Regions from separate parts of the Homo sapiens genome. Here all the other regions are reported to be linked to region 1. The links are microRNA targets in miRTarBase. Many come from high-throughput screens and were not tested one by one. Region 1 holds a microRNA gene; each other region holds the end of a gene's coding sequence.
What was found. The annotated mature microRNA hsa-miR-6077 reads GGGAAGAGCUGUACGGCCUUC and lies in region 1 at 1,795-1,815, shown strand. An mRNA with a match to its seed (bases 2 to 7 or 8) in the 3' UTR can be bound and repressed. Matches are read on the target gene's strand: a 7mer-m8 pairs with bases 2 to 8, a 7mer-A1 pairs with bases 2 to 7 and ends in A, and an 8mer does both.

Region 1 (4,065 bases):
CTTCCTATGGAACGAAGTTTGATGGGAGGGGGGACATTGAGTAGTAAGATCACTCTTGTAACAGGGATGCCACTCTTGCAGATATTGACAACTATTGGGCCCATAAAATTTTTACCAAACATTGGAAAGACAAGATATGAACAACTTATCATTGCTGCAGTCTCAAATATCAGGAAATACCATTATTCTCAGGACAATAAATAGACAATAAAAAAAGTCTCACAGAGCAGATTAGCTGTCATGTATTACCAAACAGGGATTGGATCCTTGTCAACACCACCCAACAGAAATTGTCCATACAAATTCACTTCATAACATCAAAACCAAAAGCCCACACTGATGGCAAAAAATAATGACACAATAATGAGAGAGAGAGAGAGAGAGAGACCTGTCCTATAGCCATACTTAGTGTGTAAAAGCCAAAGAGCTCAATTTCTGCTCATGATACTTAATAAAACAGACGGAACATGAGCCAATAATTCAGTGGGTTCAGATCTGCACCAAGTGCCTGTTGGATGCAGGATTCTACTGTCTCCAATAATATGTCTCAGATGGCCTAGTTTTTTTTTGTTGTTTTGTTTTGTTTTGTTTTGAGACAGAGTCTCGCTCTGTCGCTCAGGCTGAGGTGCAATGGCATGATCTCAGCTCACTGCAACCTCTGCCTCCTGGGTTCAAGCGATTTTCCTGCCTCAGCCTCCCCAGTAGTTAGGATTACAGACACACACCACCACATCCAGCTTTTTTTGCTTTTTTTGCTTTTTTTTTTTTTTTTTTTTTTTTTGTATTTTTAGTAGAGACGGAGTTTCGTCATGTTGGTCAGGCTGGTCTCGAACTCCTGACCTCAGTTGATCAGAAGTAGGTGAGGTCAGAAAACATACCCTGGGAAATGCTGGCACAATGCCCAGAACCGCCATCTCTAGGCCTGGGGTTTTCTTTTGTAGTGGAATACTAGTATTCATGCAATGCAGGGACAAGACCAATTAGATACTTCTGGGAGTTAAAAAGAGATGAATTTACAGTGCCATTTGAGAAGGGGTATTAAGGAATTTGCCAGGGTACTGACGCGTGTCAGGTGCAAACTGCAGGTTGAAAGAGAGCTAAGTATTTTCTGTCCATGAAGGTGATAAGGGAGGGCCTGAAGAAAGACGGACCGGGAAGGACACTGGCGCCAGAAGTAGGAAAGGGCTGCTTGGGGGTGGGAAGGATGGGTCGGGGTGCTATCTAAAAAGTTGCCTGGCAATGGATGTAGGATATGGAAGCGAGACATCAAACAAGAAGTTGTCATTTAAATAAAGTCTGAAGAAAGACTAGATATGTAAACAGCAGGAGATAATAGGGAAACTGGACCCCGCTGCTCATAAAACTTCCTGCCTTATATTTCAGGGAGGATCGCAGCGCATTTCAGCCAAGACAAGTAAGACTGCGGTTCTGACCTGCGGGCCTCCACGAATTGCATTAGGGCACCTGGGCTCCGGGAAAGCCATTCCCCTACACAAAGTAAGCGTGTTATGTCTGCAAATGAACGGGGACACTAAGAGCCCCAAAGGCCCTGCTTTCATCCCAAAGAACAGCGCCTGTCTGCGTAGTTTGTACCTGGCTCTATGAGGTGAGAACACATTCCCCGCTAGCACAGAAATCCTACAAACTCCTGAGGGGGCTGCGGTTAGAAGCAGGGGCTGTGTAAAAGGTGACTCTGGGGGCTAGAGAAAACCACGAAGATTTTCACAGAGCGTGAGAACCCAAGACACTGGAGACCATGGACCAATCTCTGCAAAAAGCAGCCCTGCGTAGAAAGGGAAGAGCTGTACGGCCTTCGCGCTAGTTTGTTTGTGTTAAGGCTGACGCTCCCTATTTCTCCTCAGTGGGAGAAGCGACATCTTAATTCCTATTTCCCAGCCTTCCACTGTAAGAATAACACGTCCAAGACACAAATCAATGAAAGAAAAAAGTAGCCCTTAGAGTACAGCGTATTCTTGAAACTACAAAAAATCAGGGGAAAGCGCGAACGCAGTACCACTACCACAAATTATGCAATCGAGTTTCCCACATTTGGGGAAATCGCAGGGGTCAACACATCTGGAGTGCAATGGATAAGCCTCGCCCTGGGAAAACCACCTTCGTGATCATGTTATCTCCCCTGCCAAGTAAATATGAGCTCCTGCACCTCCGCCCCGTACGCCTCACCCTTTACACGCACGGTCGCTTGCCCCGCGCACCCCCCAGCCCTCCTAGCCCTGACACACAGCTGGGACTCTCCGGCCGGACCAGCGGTCCTGAGCCCGCTCCCAAGGCTCGGGAACTCCTTCGAGGCGAAGCAGCAGGTGGGGAAGCAGCAGCTCCTGCGCTGCCTCATCTACATAGAAGTCGCCCTATCCGTGATGTCACCGACAGTGCCTTTCCCAGGCCCCATCTGCCTTTCTGCCAGTCAGCCGACCAACCCGCTGCCTGAACCAGCAAGAGGAAGTGACGTCTGCCTCTCCCTTTTTCCCTCCCGCCCCGGCATCTGTTTTCGCCCAAAGAAGCTGGTCCTTAGCCTATCTTGTGAAGCAAACTTTCGGTGGCCAGATGGAGCCTGGGTACTCTTCTTCACATAATGACTTTTATTTCGCAGACTAGAACGTTTAGGACTACAAAAGAAACCGGTTTTCTTCACATACTTATCCTTGTAATGTAGCATTCCGCTTGAAATTGGAAGCCGTTCAATGTCACAGAGAAACCATATTTATGAAAGTAAAGAGGCTTCTCAGATGACTGCAAACCAGCCTTCCTTACTGATTTTATCACTGGTAATGTTATAAAAACAGTTGTCAAGTTTAATGAATCTTGTAGTTTTTTTTATTTTTATTTTTATTTTTTTCCAAATTCAGTATTGTGGAAAAATATGCTGCCACAGAAGAAATGATTGGACACTCTCAAATGTGGTGTTGCACTTTGTCATCTTTTGCACAGCCATCTCCAGACCTTATTGCTTACCTCGTGTTAGTTTTTTATATTCTGCAAAGACAAAACCAAAATAATCCAAATTTGACAAAAATACCTGGGATACATCTTATTTGTGATGCTTAACAAATGTCTGGATCATCTTTTCTTATATGGGATTATAATGCAGGAAACACTGTGAAGTAAGCAAAGTTGGAATTCCCAAGTCAAAGACCATTTGAATATTTACAAGTAGATTTGAGACAGGAATAATACAGGGTGGTCACAGGATAACAAATTCTAGGCAGCAGATTTACATGACTTGAGGCTATGGGCTGATAAGATGCTGAAAAACCAGGGTGTGGACCAAGCTGGCTAAGACTGACTGGACCCAATGTGGTGCTGGATTTGACGTAGGTTTTACCTAGGCCCTCATTATACGCTTATTAACATACTAAATCACACACCCACCAGTGCCATGACAGTTCTGAGACCAATATTTGATGTAAAAATGGATGGCACCACAGTTCTGAGAAATCTCCACCTTTACCCAGGAATTTTCATCAATATTCCACTCCTTGGTTAAAGAAACCCATTGAGATGAAACCCCAGAACCCATTGTTCTCTCTCAGGTATGCCCAAACTCCCCTTTCTTGAGTGTGTACTTTCTGCTTTGCAATAAATCTCTTCTTTCACTATTTGCTAACTCATCCTTGACCTCATTCTTGAGATGGTGTCAAGAGCCTGGACACCACAGCTGGGGTCGAGATCCTACCAGTGTCCGGGGACCTCCCCCAGCCCACCAGTATCAGATTCTATTCCATTGCTCAAATCACAAAACATCAAATGGAGAATTCTTCTTTGGAGACCACAAAGTAAAGATTCTGTGGCATGGTGGCCAGTTAGGCCACTGGAAGACATGGCAAAATATTGAAAATGAGGGATTAGGTGACAGCGTAGTAACTGCTGAATGTGAAATACTTGATCCAGACCCCATTCCCTGTAGACTGACTGGGAGACACATTGTCCAGGTAGTAGTGGAGAAATACTTTCTGGGTATCTGACCAGCCTTTGTGGAAAGAACTGGCACCATCCTGCAGATGTAACCACCTGATGGGTTCTTCCTGCCCACTGTACACACAAAAT
Region 2 (4,060 bases), not on the chromosome of region 1:
GCATCCCCTGTGATTTGCACGTATACATCCAGATGGCCTAAAGTAACTGAAGATCCACAAAAGAAGTAAAAATAGCCTTAACTGATGACATTCCACCATTGTGATTTGTTCCTGCCCCACCCTAACTGATCAATGTACTTTGTAATCTCCCCCACCCTTAAGAAGGTACTTTGTAATCTTCCCCACCCTTAAGAAGGTTCTTTGTAATTCTCCCCACCCTTGAGAATGTACTTTGTGAGATCCACCCTGCCCACAAAACATTGCTCTTAACTTCACCGCCTAACCCAAAACCTATAAGAACTAATGATAATCCATCACCCTTCGCTGACTCTCTTTTCGGACTCAGCCCACCTGCACCCAGGTGAAATAAACAGCTTTATTGCTCACACAAAGCCTGTTTGGTGGTCTCTTCACATGGATGCACATGAAACTATGAACATAAGAATCTCTGAAGTTAGGTTACACTTGACCACACAAGGCTTGCATAGTTGAGTGACTAGCCATGAAGATAATTTAAACAACTCTTCTGGCTCAATTGGCATATTGCTAATCAATCTTCTAATAAATTTAGATTTTCATATAAATTTTTAAGCAAGAGAAGGGAGAACTCAGCTAACCTAATCTGTTTCCCTTAATTTTAGTCATCAATTTACATAAAAGAAACAGTCTAATGTTAATGCTTGTGAACTTGTCACTATAACCAGGCTTTTGTGTGACTTAGTAGATCAAGGTTTCAACTCTATAAGAGAAAGCAAATTCTGAATTGTGGTGTAACTGCCACCTGGTCCAATTTTATCTGACCTCAGTTTCACAATCCTCTCCTTGTATGTAGTTAACTCTGTTTTTGCTACAATGTTGTGATGGGTTATCACAAATAGCAAAGTATTAAGAATTCCAGTCAGAATGTTAATTATTAAAAAGTCAAACAATAGATGCTGGCAAGGCTGTGGAGAAACAGGAATGCCTTTACACTCTTGGTGGGAATGTAAATTAGTTCAACCATTGTGGAAGACTGTGTGGCGATTCCTCAAGGATCTAGAAACAGAAATACCATTTGAACCAGCAATCCCATTACTGGGTATATACCCAAAGGATTATAAATCATTCTACTATAAAGACACATGCACATGTATGTTTATTGCACTATTTACAATAGTAAAGACATGGAACCAACCCGAATACCCATCAATGGTAGACTGGATAAAGAAAATGTGATACAAACACCATGGAATACTATGCAGCCATGAAAAGGAATGAGATCATGTCCTTTGCATGGACATGGATGAAGCTGGAAGCCATCATTATCAGCAAACTAACACAGGAACAGAAAACCAAACCACATGTTCTCACTCATAAGTGGGAGCTGAACAAGGAGAACACATGGACACAGGGAGGGGAACAACACACACCAGGGCCTGTTGCAGGGTGGGGGGCGGGGGAGGGAACCTAGAGGACGGTTCAATAGGTACAGCAAACCACCATGGCACACATATACCTATGTAACAAACCTGCATGTTCTGCACGTGTATCCCAGAACTTACTTAAAGTAAATTTTTTTTAAAAAAATAAATATAACTTAGATATCTTTTAAAAAAATTCCATTGTGAAGAAAAACTCCATTGAGATAATATTTGTCTACCATCTCTGCTTCCCCCTAGCCTTGGTTCCTTTTTAAAAATTGTGTCCTAGTGAGAGAACATGATACTTAATAACAAAACTGGATGCATCCCCAAGCTGAAGTTTTACTTTACTGAGTATGTGCCTGGGGTGTGGAGAAACAATAGCATCCTAACTTCAGGATTGGTAATATGACAACAGCAAATTTCTAAGAAAAGGTTTGGGATATAGAGATGTTTCCTGAATATAAACATTGGCTTATTAAAGGATAATTCCAAACATTTTTTACTGAAGTTTTAAAAAATTACTATTCCAGGAAAAAAAAAAAACCCTAGAAAAGTTCCATGTTAAATGTTTCATGTTGTTTTCTCATTGCGTTAAGACCGATGGTAAGAAGGAGCGACTGCTTTGGATACAGCCCGACACACATACCTGCTAGTTCACTCTGTGGCTGTGCATCCCTCTCCGCCAACCACAAAACTCAAATTTGGTTCACCTTGCTCAAAATGGTACCCTGATTTTTCAAGAGCATCCACTTTGATCTGTCTGAGCCAACCCTGACAATTGCAGTCCTCTTGCCACTAGACTGGTTCAGCATAAGCAGATAAAGAAATCTGCTCACTAGGGTATGAGGAAAATTATTCCAGAGGTCTGTTTCTGGGAAAGTGTTTCTCCATTTTAAGAAGAGACAGGTTATCGTATGGGGAGAAAATGCTCAGGACTGCTGAAGTCCTCTTACGGCGACAAGAGATTCCGACAAGAATGAACCTGGGTCCTCTGATACCACTGAGTCCCTGAATTAATCGTCAAGCTACCCATATGAGTCAGGGTTGGATCAGGGAGGCAGAATCAGAGAATGACAGAATAAAGATTTATTATAGAGCTTCAGCCTTACACAATTGTGGGTGCTGGTGGAGAAGTCTAGGCCAGGCTGTTCCCTCTGCATCTGGTTCTGGGCCTGAAGTCACTGTAGGTCGACTGTGAATGCAGCAAGGATGAAGGGAAGTCCATAAGAACAAACAGAACCCATGTCTGTCTCACGGCCTCCACTGCAATGCTGTGTGTGATCTCAGGAAAAGCTGATGCTGGTTGCCATGGAGCTGCACACACACCTGGCCAGTACTTTGCAAAGCTGAAGGAGGAGGCTGGCAGGAGCTGGAAGAGCTCTGGGTCCAGGGAGCTGTCTCTGGTCTCTTCTAGCTCCCCTTTTTGGCCTGGAGTCATATTTTCAAGCTGTCACCATGCTTGGGTCTGTACACTGACCTTATGAGTATAAAATAGCTGCTGATCAAATTAATGCAAATTTCTTTATGACCTACTCCAATCCAGAACCATGAGAGAGAGGAATTCCGGGACATGTTCCTCCAGCTGAGCCAAATCGGTACTGCACAAATCCAGCATATTACCTGTCACTGAATGTCTCGTGTGGGGTTACCTCCATGTTTAAAGCATGTACCAGCATATAGCCTACATGTGTGTTGATTAGGAGAGTTTTGCCTACATGTTCAAATTGCCTAACTATAGCTATATTTATATCACAATGCTGAGGAGATCTTATGACTTCCATTCTACCACTGCTGGCTCACAATATACATTCATAGATTTAGGGGTGAATCAAGCCAAAGTTGCCTAACTTTAGTAAAAACCATTCACCAACATGCCCTAGTCCCCATGAAGCGTGACTGGTCTAAGGACATCTTCTATGAGTCCTACCCATTAAGAGGAAATATGGACAAAGGATCAAGTATTTATTCATTTTTTAAACATCAGAATTGAAAAGGTTCTTCCATTTATTTAATCTGTCATGTGAAGCATTAGAAGGTAGTTTACTTGCATTTGAGGATCAAAAAATCCCCATTAACTGTGGAAGCAATGATATTCCCTTTAATTATTTTTCTAATTGCCTTGTTTATATGGTGTGAAAAGCAATTTAAACATGTTTTTAAAAATGTTTCCATGCAACCTAAGTTTTTGGCCATGAAACAGCACCTTCCTTGTACTTCTCCAGCTGTTGTCCTTTCAAAGCAGGGGATGCTATTCTTCTTGAACCTGAAAAACAGAATGTCAGTGTGTTCTGTGAATTTCCTGTGATTTTCACCAGTGGAACACATGTCCAGAACCAAGCTGAGTCCCTTCCAGAGGTAAGCAGGCCTTAGCCAACTCTTCATTAACTTCAAAGGGAGGCAGGGAATTGAGGCAATTATCTGCATTACAGAAAGCAGACCCTGGTAATTCACCCCAAGGGCATGCTCGGTCACTCTCAATTTTCTGCCTGCCTTGTCTTGCCAATGAAGGCAGCGCCCCCCTTTGCCAACCCCATAAGGAGAAAGATTCTGCAGCCACATCACCAGTTTGCTCCCCAGCCCTGACACAGAATTCTATCAGCAAACCTCTTCCTTGTGCATATGACAGTTGAGGATTTTTTGGCTTTTCTTCTGTGAAG
Region 3 (4,060 bases), not on the chromosome of region 1:
TAATCAATCTTCATTACCAGTTCACTTGGAAGCCTTCCGGGCAGTGTTGTAGAAGCCAACCCTAATCAGCGTGACCCTCCGCTTTGGGATGAAATTGATTCTAGGTAGGGTTGACAGAGGGTTGAGCGTGGCAGCCTTTCCCCTTGTCCTCTGTGCCCTCTGGGTCATGCTCATTCCCCTCCACAGCCCAGCCCAACAACTCGGAGAGGGCTGCCTGGGTAGGAGAGACGGCAGCCCCCAGAGCTGTCCTGGACTCCCTTCTCATCTCTCCCCACAGGCAATTTCTAAACCGGGATGACATTGGCATCATCCTCATCAACCAGTACATCGCAGAGATGGTGCGGCATGCCCTGGACGCCCACCAGCAGTCCATCCCCGCTGTCCTGGAGATCCCCTCCAAGGAGCACCCATATGACGCCGCCAAGGACTCCATCCTGCGCAGGGCCAGGGGCATGTTCACTGCCGAAGACCTGCGCTAGGGGACTCCTCATAGCCCTCAGCCCTTCCCTCGTTTCCAGGCCTCTCCCCAGGCTTGCCATCAGCCTTCTTTACTTTTTGAGCCTCTGATTTCCAATTCCCTGCTCCTTCCCACTCCATTAAGAGGCTAGGTGAGGCGCTTCTAGGTTGCTGGGGCTCTGCTGGTTAAGGAACAGGAAGCCTGACCATCTCCCTCCACTACCTCTTCCCTGTGCTGTTACACAGTGTCATTGTTGATGTTAAATTAAAGTCATATTCTTGCTTCTCTCCAGATGGGTTGGGTGCTGGAAAGGACATGTGTGGGGTGAGGCCATGGGGCAGATTCGGTTGGCAAGGATGGAAAAGGTGCTGCCAAAGACAGGCATAGAAGAGGTGGCCCAGGAGGATTGTGCCGGGAGGCAGAACTCAAGGACTGGTCCTTGGATCAGAGAAGACCAGCTCTGGTCTGGGGAGGAATGGGAGGAGGCTTGAGCCCAGCTCCTGCTTCCCCCACCTTGCTCGGCATTGGGCTGGGAAGGGGGCCAGATCCAAAGGACAGAAGCAGAAAGCACACGAAACCTGGGAGTCTGTGATGCCAGATCCCGCGAGGGCCCTGCGGGAGTTTTGGGGGGAGCAGGGCTCTTAACCAGTGGGCCCTGGCCTCAGGCTGCCTCAGGAAGCCAGGCTCATGGGGTCTGCTGGGGGCATGGCAAGTAGAACCCTGGCCCTGTGTGAGGTGAGGCATGGTTGCCAGGTGACTGTGCCTGGGCAGCCACTCGCCGTCAGAAGCACTCTGCTTGCTGTGCTCACCCCTCAGCTGTGGCCACCCTGGTGCCACTCCTTCCCTGGCCACCATGTCACGGCAGCTCAACATAGACGCGTTACGGCAGAACTTCTGGAAGGAGGAATATCTGAGGGAAAAGATGTTGCGCTGTGAATGGTACCGCAAGTATGGGTCGATGGTGAAGGCCAAGCAGAAGGCTAAGGCTGCAGCCCGCCTGCCCCTCAAACTGCCCACCCTGCACCCCAAAGCCCCACTCTCACCCCCACCCGCCCCCAAGTCAGCCCCTTCCAAGGTGCCCAGCCCTGTCCCAGAGGCGCCTTTTCAGTCGGAAATGTACCCGGTACCACCTATCACCCGAGCCCTGCTGTATGAAGGCATCTCCCACGACTTCCAGGGGCGGTACCGCTACCTCAACACTCGAAAACTGGACATGCCAGAGACGCGATACCTCTTCCCCATCACCACCAGCTTCACGTATGGCTGGCAGCTGGGTGAGCCCAACCTCTTGGAAATCACCTCAAAAACAGAGCACTAGCCATGTGCTAGGGAGTGGGCATCCTGGTGAAGGGTCCAGACTATAAACAGAGCAAGGAGATGGCCAAGAAGTGTCGACACGTTCCACAGAACTAGGGAGTGGCGGTGGGCAGGGAGGCAGCGGCCACGTGCTGCTATTTATTGGATTGTCAGGAAAGGCCTTTCTGAGGACCCGAGGCTGAGAGCCAGATGATAAGGATGGGTTTGGATTTTATTTGTTGTGCAGGGAAGCTGATGGAGGGTTCTAAGCAGATTTCAAGAGTGACACTGGTGAACCTTTTAAAAAGTCACCCTGACCTGTATGTAGGCAGTGGCTTTTTCAGGGGAAATGGTAGAATCTGGCACATGAGTTGGGCATCTGTTTGGTTATCCTGTGGTAGTGGCCTGAGGGATCAGCAATAGAGCTGAAATCAATTCAGGATGTTTTGGGGGAAGACTCGGTGGAACTCACCCATGGATAGAATGTGAGAATAAGGGGAAGAGAGATCAATCACCCAGGTGTTTGTTTAGCTAAAGCTGCAGTGACAGGGAAGACTGGGAGAGGTCAGGGCTGGAGCGTGCATGAACAGGTCCTATTTAGCCATGTGTGTTTGGCTATGTTATGCTTGAAGTGTCTGTAGGGTGGCTGTGTCTATAAGTCTGGATTGAAGTCAGAGCTGAAGATGCAAATTCGGAGGTCATTGGAATATAGGTGCTTTTTTTTTTTCTTTTTCTTTTTGAAACAGTCTGACTCTGTCACCCAGGCTGGAATGCAGTGGCACGATCTTGGCTCACTGCAACCTCTGCCTCCCAGGTTCAAGAGATTCTTCTGCCTCAGCCTCCCGAGTAGCTGGGACTGCAGGCGTGTGTCACCACGCCCAGCTAATTTTTGTTTTTTTAGTAGAGACAGGGTTTCACCATATTGGCCAGGCTGGTCTCGAACTGCTGACCTCGTAATCTGCCTGTCTCGGCCTCCCAAAGTTCTGGGATTACAGGCATGAGCCACCGGCTGGCCTATAGGTGCTATTTAAATCCATGAGATCTCCTAGGGAGCTCAAGTTGCTGGAATCTGATGGGAGTGGGGGCAGGAGGGCTGAGCCAGAGCGGGTAGGGGATGTCATTGGCAGGAAGCCTGTCCATCTCGGCTGAGTCTTTTTTCTGTGAGGTTGAGTCAAGGCCATCAGCGGGGAGGGAGCTGAGCTGAGGCAGTGGAGTAACTAGAGATGAAGAGGAAAGGTGTGGAACAGGCATGTGCCAGGCAGGGCTGCTGGGCGATGTTGCTGCACGTCCCATTGCTGTCTGTGCTCATGAATGTCAAGTGAGACTCCTCAGCCCTGTACCCTTCTCCAGCTGCTTGAGTGTCTTGCAGAAAAGGTGGATGGTTGGGGATTGACTCAGTTGAGATTTTGCCCCCAAACATCCCTTTCCCCCAGGCCCCTAAAGGGGAAGTCAGGGAAATAACTTTCTAACAAAAGCAGGAGGCGAGCCCTAGAAGCGGGGAGCAGGAGGCCGAAGGAAATCTCATCTCTCCACAGTCTGTCCCTGTGACAAGCAGGCTAGGGTGGCCCCCCTCCCTGCAGGTAGAGGATCCTGAAGCTAGGGTAATGATGGCAGATGGCTGCTGTATCCTGGCATCCAGCCAGCTCCCAGTATTTGCCCATAGCTCCCATTCCTCCAAAGCACTTTCTATTTCTTCCCACAAAGTGGCTACTCCACTGACGGATTCCTAGGGCTGTGCAGACAGACAGGGCTCCCATGCTCTGCGTGTCCCTCCCTCAGGAACCCATGCTTGGCCTCTGACATCTTTTCCCAGGCCCCCCAGTGAAGCAAGAACTGGTCTCCTGCAAGATGTGCCGCATTGAGTCATTCTTCCGCAAGAACGGGGCCTTCGCACTGCTTGATCCCCGAGACCTGGCCCTCTGACCGTGGGCCAGGTGTGGGCTTAGGGGAGGGAAGAAGAAATAACAGGCCTCCTGGTGGGGCAAAGCTGCTGTGTGTGTCTGTGCCCCTCTGCTCTCCCTGTCCCTGAGGTTGCATTCAGGCCTTTCTGAAACTATCAGACCTGCAAGTTGCCCTCTTGCTTTTTCCGTAACCCTCATCACTTTAATCATCCCTTTGAGGACTCAGCAATGACCAGAGGGTGCTGGGAAGGGCGAGCACTACTTCGCAGGCACGGGATCCTCAGCACCAGGGGAACACAGTAGTTCCAGGAAGTTCTGGGTGTTCCTGGGGAGAGAGCGGCTTGTCATTTCGGAGGCCAGGGAAAGGGGCCTCCTGCCACCGCCACACCCCTCCTTGCCCGCCCCT

Region 2: the mRNA of MYH15 is a reported target of hsa-miR-6077. Seed matches in the 3' UTR shown: 8mer at 2,774-2,781.
Region 3: the mRNA of ATP6V1F is a reported target of hsa-miR-6077. Seed matches in the 3' UTR shown: 7mer-m8 at 680-686.

Annotation. Positions count from the first base shown.
Region 1 is chr1:148,386,500-148,390,564 of GRCh38, forward strand. It overlaps MIR6077 (microRNA 6077), which reads left to right and starts at 1,783; the gene lies at 1,783-1,864. It also overlaps the pseudogene RNVU1-2. RefSeq lists an enhancer at 1,086-1,925.
Region 2 is chr3:108,377,894-108,381,953 of GRCh38, forward strand. It overlaps MYH15 (myosin heavy chain 15), which reads right to left. Exons shown (of 41, transcript NM_014981.3): 41 at 2,475-3,666. The coding sequence ends at 3,652. It overlaps HHLA2 (HHLA2 member of B7 family), which reads left to right. Exons shown (of 10, transcript NM_001282556.2): 10 at 1-392. LOC124900545 (a long non-coding RNA gene) reads left to right here and starts at 3,647. Exons shown (of 2, transcript XR_007095998.1): 1 at 3,647-3,758. RefSeq lists an enhancer at 1-95.
Region 3 is chr7:128,865,100-128,869,159 of GRCh38, forward strand. ATP6V1F (ATPase H+ transporting V1 subunit F) reads left to right here. Exons shown (of 2, transcript NM_004231.4): 2 at 278-748. The coding sequence ends at 479. SPMIP1 (sperm microtubule inner protein 1) reads left to right here and starts at 1,231. Exons shown (of 2, transcript NM_001195150.3): 1 at 1,231-1,731; 2 at 3,567-4,060. The coding sequence starts at 1,311. The coding sequence ends at 3,676.